Linked DNA regions of Homo sapiens. The protein of the gene in region 2 interacts with the protein of the main gene of each other region in a pairwise test. Each region holds a gene or a part of one and is shown on either strand. Other genes may lie near its edges.

What was found.
Region 1: the proteins of MGAT5B (region 2) and HR interact in a two-hybrid assay, tested with the Homo sapiens proteins (one large-scale study listed by BioGRID).

Annotation. Positions count from the first base shown.
Region 1 is NC_000008.11:22,124,511-22,128,010, forward strand, and holds part of HR (lysine-specific demethylase hairless), read right to left. Parts: intron 3,320-3,500; coding exon 2,527-3,319; intron 1,223-2,526; coding exon 1,072-1,222; intron 995-1,071; coding exon 801-994; intron 1-800. UniProt on the Homo sapiens protein: Histone demethylase that specifically demethylates both mono- and dimethylated 'Lys-9' of histone H3. May act as a transcription regulator controlling hair biology (via targeting of collagens), neural activity, and cell cycle.
Region 2 is NC_000017.11:76,934,404-76,937,903, reverse strand, and holds part of MGAT5B (alpha-1,6-mannosylglycoprotein 6-beta-N-acetylglucosaminyltransferase B), read right to left. Parts: intron 1-3,500. UniProt on the Homo sapiens protein: Glycosyltransferase that acts on alpha-linked mannose of N-glycans and O-mannosyl glycans.

The sequences.
Region 1 (3,500 bases), on a different chromosome or scaffold from region 2:
GTGGTTAGGACTTGCCCCTGCCTCGCAGTGCACACATTCCAGGTAGGGAGATGGACCCATAAATACAGCGATGACTGTGGCACCACGAGGCGGGTGCTGGAGATGGAAAATGCCAGGGAAGGGTGAGGATGGGAATGCGGGAGAGCTTCCCAAGTGGGCCCCAGAGGATGAGTAAGTTTTCATTCACCAGGTAGAAAGGGAGGAGCAGGGCATTCCAGACACAGGGACAGCCAGTGCCAAGGCCCGAGGGGATGACAAGCTCCAGGGAGCCGGGAAGGGAAGGATGGATGGCGTGTGTGCTGGGAACCCAGGCTGGGAGTGGCAGGAGCTGACAGGGAGCCTGCTGAAGATGCACCAAGGGGCCTGGCCTGTCTGGGGCAAGAGGGAGCCCCGGGGGTCTCCACCCAAAGACTGACCAGCAGCCTTTGGTCATGAGGAACTCTCTGTGCTGCGGAAGGGCGACCGAAGGGAGCACCTGCAGCCAGAGGGGACCTTAGCCCAGGTCCTGTCAGCCCTCCAGGCCCGGGAGCTTCGCCTGACCCCCAAGCCCTCAGGAGCTCCCCCACCTCCCAGTGCCTTGCAGATACTTGGCACTCATTCTTGTTTTCCCAACAAGCCCAAAAACTCCCAGAGAACTGGGCTGTACCCAGTTTGACACCTTCCTGATGTCCCCACCCAGGCCAGGGGCTCTTCTGAGGTTGCCTTAGGTCTAGGAGCTGGCAGTGTGGGTGGGGTCAGGGGAGGGACACCTGGGGCTCCCCACACAGAGACCCCACGCAGACCCAGGAGGTCCTGTTCACCTTCCCGCTGGGCCCAAGCCAGGGCCTCCCGCTCCCTCCGCAGCAGGCGGCACAGTCGGTCCCCCAAACCACTGAGCAGGTGCTTGGCGAGGCCTGTGCTGAGCCGGCTGTCAGGGCCGGACCCTGGGCCTTCCTCAGAGCTGGAGTTGGTGGCTGTGTCTTCCTCCTGCTGCAGCTCCCCTCCCAGAGGCGATCTGGAGAGAGGGCAGGGGGAGGTGAGCAGGGAGCCCTGGCGAGGGGGCACTGGAGGTGTCCAGGGGCAATGGCTCACCTCCGCACTTGCTGAGAGTGGCAGGCGTGCCCTCCTCCCTCTCCAGCTGCCTGGGCACAACTTTGGCATTGAGCCAGTTTTGCAGGGAGAGCCAGGCATGGTATGTCCTGAAGTCCCGGGTCCTGGAGACTGGCCTGGCCATCTTGGGGTCCTGAGGGGACAATGCAGAGGTCAGGAATCTGGGTTTCTTGGGCTGCTGAGAACCCCATTCCTCACCTTAGCGCCCACCCCATCCACACTCAGAGCCAGCCCAGTTCCTCGCCCCAGGTCTCTGAAGCCTAATTCAGAACCAGCAAGAGTGGACCAGGCAGCTGGAAGGCTCGCACGCCAGGCTGAGCAGGGAGTCTGAGGATGCCGTGACATGGACCGGCAGCCGAGCGAAGAGGTTGTCTGGTGTGTTGAGCCCAAGGCTTTGGGCAGCTGGGGCGATCGTCCTGACACAAGTGCAGGATCCAGCCAGTGTAGACTTTGGATAGCTCCACTGAGGGCTTAGTGATACCACTGGCTGCGTGACATGAGGAGACAATCCCAACGTGGACGGAGGGCGCCGGAAGGTGAGAAGGGCCAGAGAGTTTCGACACAGGCCACAGGTGCAGTAACCCAAGAAGGCGAAGGGGCCAACAAATTCCCAGCCAGGGCAGAGGCCTGGGCAGAGGGCACAGACAGGCCCATGCCAGGTGCAGGGCATTTGGGCAAGGCCACGGAGAGAGCTGATCCACACCCAGCCGTCCAGGAAGCTGAAAAAACCGAAGTGATCCCAAAGAACTAAGGCTGGAGCCGGCAGTGCCAGGGTCCTCCGTGGAGGGCACAGTGTAGCAAGTGACTCCAGGGTGCGCCCAGAGCCCTAACACTGGCAGAGTCCAAACTGAGTCTCCAGCTCCACCTGGCCAAGAGAGCAGCCATTCCTGGCGCAGGACAAGGGATCCTTCAGGACAAGCAATCCCCAAACAGGGATTTGTGGCACACGCAGTCATCACGGTGAACATTTACTGAGTGTTCACTGGGTGCCAGGAATTCTTCCAAGCCCTTGCTATGAATCATTCTAGCATTTAACTTTTGCAGCAGTCTTCCTGAGGTAGGTGCCGTCTTCTTCCCCATTTTATAGATGAAGTAACTGAGGCCCAGAGAGGCGAAGCAACTCATCCGAGGTCACACAGCTACCAATCAGCAAAGTCAGGGACGAGGCACTCTGGCTCCAGAGCCATGCTCTGAACTATGTCATTATACTGCCACCAACACACCAGGGCTTGGGAGGAGACAGAGGTAGAAGATACTTGCTGGAAGGCTCTGGCCTGGAGATGCTGAGGAACTCCCAGAGAGCCCTCGTGATCCAGGTGGGAGCCTGACCACTGGTTGTGGTCCACTCATAAAGCCTACAGACCCCGCCCCATGCGAAGCCCCAGCCCCGGCTGCCCCCTCCCACGCAGGGCCTGCAGCCCCTCCTGGCCCCCTTACCTTTCTGCTCATCATGCTGTCCCGAGTCCACATCCTTGTTCCCTATCGATGTGTCCCGCACCTCCTGCCAACCCCCAGCCCCCTGTTCTGCAGTGCCTGGAAAAGGGTCCGGTGGCCGCTTGGGGGCTGGACTGCCCATTGCTCCCTGGACCTCGGGGCTGCCTGCCCTTTTGAGGGCCCGGAGCCGAGCAACCGGCCTCTCCTCGACCTCAGGGCAGCCGCGTGGACATTCAAACTGCTCCGAGTGCCGTGTGAGCCATGTCTTCTTCAGCTTGGTGTGGTGGCTGGGGGGACAGGCCCTGGGGCCAGAGGCCTTGTTCACTTCCTCGCTGGGTTCGCTGGCTCCACTGGCACCCCCCTCCAGGCCCTCCTGGCACTTCCCACAAGGGCCAAGACCCCCACCTTTAGTGGGTGGGTAGGATGAACAGCAGCCCCGCTGGGTGACAGGCGGCTCAGGAGAGGGGCACCTTGGTGTTGCTGGTGGCCCCAGCTGGTACCCAAGGTTCCCATCGCCTGGCCCAGCCCAGACGTTGCCAAGAGTATGAACAAGGCCTGGGGGACAAGCGGGCCAGGAGGTCCAGGGCACAGTGTCTGGCTGCCCCAGGAAGAGCGGGCAAGGATTCTGCTGCCGGCCAGCTCCCATCTCTCCATCCCTCTGGTGCAGTGAAGGGCGTTCGGCCTCCCCGGCTCTCTGCAGGTGCCCACCAGAGTTTAAGCCAAACAACCCAGGTTCCGCAGCTGCCAAGGGCTCCTTTGCCAACCTGGGAATGCTCGGATCCTTGTAGTAAAAGCCCTAAAGAGGGGAGAAAGTGTTACGCTTCAGCTGACTTGGGCTCCCCATGCCTAAATGGATGGGCAGAACTGACAAGCAAGAAGGAAGGGGAGAATACTGAAGCCCTCACATTCTGATTAATAAACAGCACTGCCCTAGGTCTCTGGAGTGCCTCTGACACTGTCCTGGCAACCCCCACCTC
Region 2 (3,500 bases):
TCAGAAGATGTGGACCCAGTCTCAGGTTGGCCATTAACTGGCTGTGGGACACTGGGAAAGGCCCCGCCCCTCTCTGGCCCTGAAAACCTATGAATGGCAGAGATTGGACTAGAGCAGAGGCTTCAGGATTACTTTTAGCCATGAAACTGTTTTCTTTCCAAAGGAACCCTATGGGGACCAACATTTAAATGGATTCACGTGGTGCCACTTGGCATCTGCTGAACCCCTAATGACCTCTAAGCTCCTCTGAGGAGCTGTGGAGCTCTCTGTAGTCCATTCATCCATCTCTCTCTCTCACCCATCCCATCCATCCTATCCATCCATCTACCCACCATCCATCCATGCACCCACCATCCATCCATGCACCCACCATCCATGCATCCATCCATCCATCCATTTGTCCACCTGCCCATAACTCTATGCGTCCACCCACCCATCCATCCATTCACCCATCCATCCCTCTCAAACATCCACCCATCCACTCATCCACCCACCCATTCATCCATCCATCCCTCTCACACATCCCTCCACTCACCCATCCACCCATCGACTCATCCATCTATCCATCCATCCTCTCATTCATCCATCTTATCTGCCCATCCCTTCTTTCACTGAAGGAGGGGGACCTCTGATGGAAGCTCCATATTTGGAATTAGAACTCAGAGGAATTCCACCCTAGAGAAAAGGATGAAACAGAGCTAGACCAGTCCTTGCAGGGGCTGAATCCATTTTGTCTTAATCACCATATTGATCAAGGTGATCCGAGATTGCTAGGGCCCCCAGCTATAAGCCAAGAGTAAAAGTAAATTCTCTCTGGAGTAAAATAGAGTCATCCTTGATCTTAAATTATCTCTACAATTTTTCATATTCATTTTCCAGAACTCAAAAAAAAAAAAAAACATTGAAATCCCAATCAAACTCCCAGTACTTTTTTGTAGAAATTGATAAGCTGATTCTAAAACTCATTTGGAAATGCAAAGAACCTAGAATAGACAAAACAACTTTGAAAAAGAACACAGTTAGCAGGCTTATATTACCGATGTCAAGACTTCTTATAAAGCTACAGTAATCCAGATAGTGTGGTATTGGCATCAAGATAGACAAACAGATCAATGGAACAGAATACAGACTCCAGAAATAGACCCACACACAGTGTGGTCAACTGATTTTCGACAAAGGTGCAAAACATTTCAGTGGAGGAAGGATGGTTTCATCAGTAAATGGTCATGAAACATGATATCTACACGCAAAAACGTAAAAGAACTTTTTACTTATTATATGTAAAAGTTCATGCAAAATGGATCACAGACTTAAATGCAAAACCTAAAACTATAAAACTTATACAAAAAAACAGGAAAGAAATCTTTGTAACCTTGGGTTAGACAAAGATTTCTTAAATACAACACCAAAAGCACAATCCCTAAAAGAAAACACTGGACTTCATTAAAATTAAGAACTTTTCTCTTTGAAAGACATTGTTTTGTTTGTTTGTTTTTGGGACAGAGTCTCCCTCTGTCGCCCAGGCTGGAGTGCAGTGGTGCGATCTCGACTCACTGCAACCTCCGCCTCCCAGGTTCAAACAATTCTCCTGCCTCAGCCTCCTGAGTAGCTGGGACTACGGGCGCACGCCACCACACGTGGCTAATCTTTTGTATTTTTAGTAGAGATGGGATTTCACCTTGTTAGTCAAGCTGATCTCAATCTCCTGACCTCGGGATCCACCCCGCCATGGCCTCCCAAAGTTCTGAGATTACAGGCGTGAGCCACCGTTCCCGGCTGAAAGACACTGTTAAGAGAAAGACAAGGCCAGGCGCAGTGGCTCATGCCTGTAACCCAGCACTTTGAGAGGCTGAGGCGGGAGGATCGCTTGAGCCCAGGAGTTTGCGACCCGAATGGGCAACATAATGAGACCCCGTCTCTCTGTCTCTATCTACATATATATATATATAATGTATATAATATATAGTATATATAATTATATAATATATAATATATATAATGTATATATAATTATATAATATATAATATATATAATGTATATAATATATATAGTATATATAATGTATATAATATATAGTATATATAATTATATAATATATATAATATATATATGTTTAAAAAGAGAGAGACAAGCCACAGACTAGAAGAAAATATTTATAAAGCATATATTTGATACGAGACTTGGATCCAGGATATATAAAGAACTCTAACAACTCCATAGTAAGAAAATAAACAACCTAATATTTTCAATGGGCAAAAGTTTTTAAAAAGACACATCACCAAAAAAAAAAAAAAAAAGATATATGGAAGACAAATAAACACACAAAAATATCTTCATCATTAGTCATTAGGAAAATGCTAGTTTAAACCACAAGAAGACACCATTCCATGCCTGTTAGAACGGCTGAAATTTACAAGACTGACCATCCCAAGCATTGATGAATTTGTTCAAGAATTGAAAGCCTCGTAATAACTTTTAAAAAAAGTTAAACACACTTCTACAGTATTAACCAGCCATTATATTCTTGGGCATTTACCCAGGAGAAATGAAAGCATATGTTTCTACAAAAAATTGTACACGAACCAAAAAGGCTAGTCAAGACTCCCTGAGTTGGCTTCACAATTTATCCATGGGTTGCCACCTACGGATTGAAAAGTTCCACCCAAGCTCACCCAGATGACTGTCTGAGGGCCTGGAATGTTTCCTCCAGGGATGAGGGTGGGTTTGCCCCGGGCCTGAACCAGCTGCCTTTGCCTCCTTCCTGCTTCATTCCCTTGATCCTTCACCCCTCGCTTCCTGGGACTACACTCTACTAAAATAGCACCTAAGCCTTAGCCTCAGGCTCCACTTTCTGGGGAATGCAGAATAAGACAGACCCGCTTAGCACAAAGTTCACCCAACGCCTTGCCCTGGGTCCCCAGCTCCTGCTCCCTGGAAGGATGATAAATGACCTGACCTTCCATCTCCCCTCCTTCCTCCTCTGCTTCTCGGCCACCTGATCCCCTGTACTCTGGAAGGCATCTCTCCCAAGATGCTGCTTTCATTTTTCTCTCCATCCAGCCACCTCTGACTTCCTTTGGTTACAAACACCAGGGCAAAGATGTCTTTTTTTGGAAGCAGTTTCTTTGAGGTCTCTAGCTGAACAGGATTGCCTCGGGCTATCACAGAAGTTCCAGCGCTAGAGATAAAACGTTTCTCTTTCCAGACTTCATAACCTCTCATTCTCTTGGGCCAGTTTCTTAACAGCATTTTCTGATAAAAGTAGACCCTGTGTGTTCCACGACCCTCCGACTCTGCCCTCTTCTCCAGCACCCAGTGCCCACAGCTTCCCGGGCTTCCCTGCAGCTGTGGCAATCGGCATGGGGAGCCTCATCTCCCAGCTCCCCGCTCCACACCCCACAGTGACCTCTGACATCTCAGCAGAGGTCTTGGACCTTGATTCCTGCTTTCAAGCCTTCTCTCTGCCATTCTCCAAGGCTTCATAATGCTGAACAGGCTG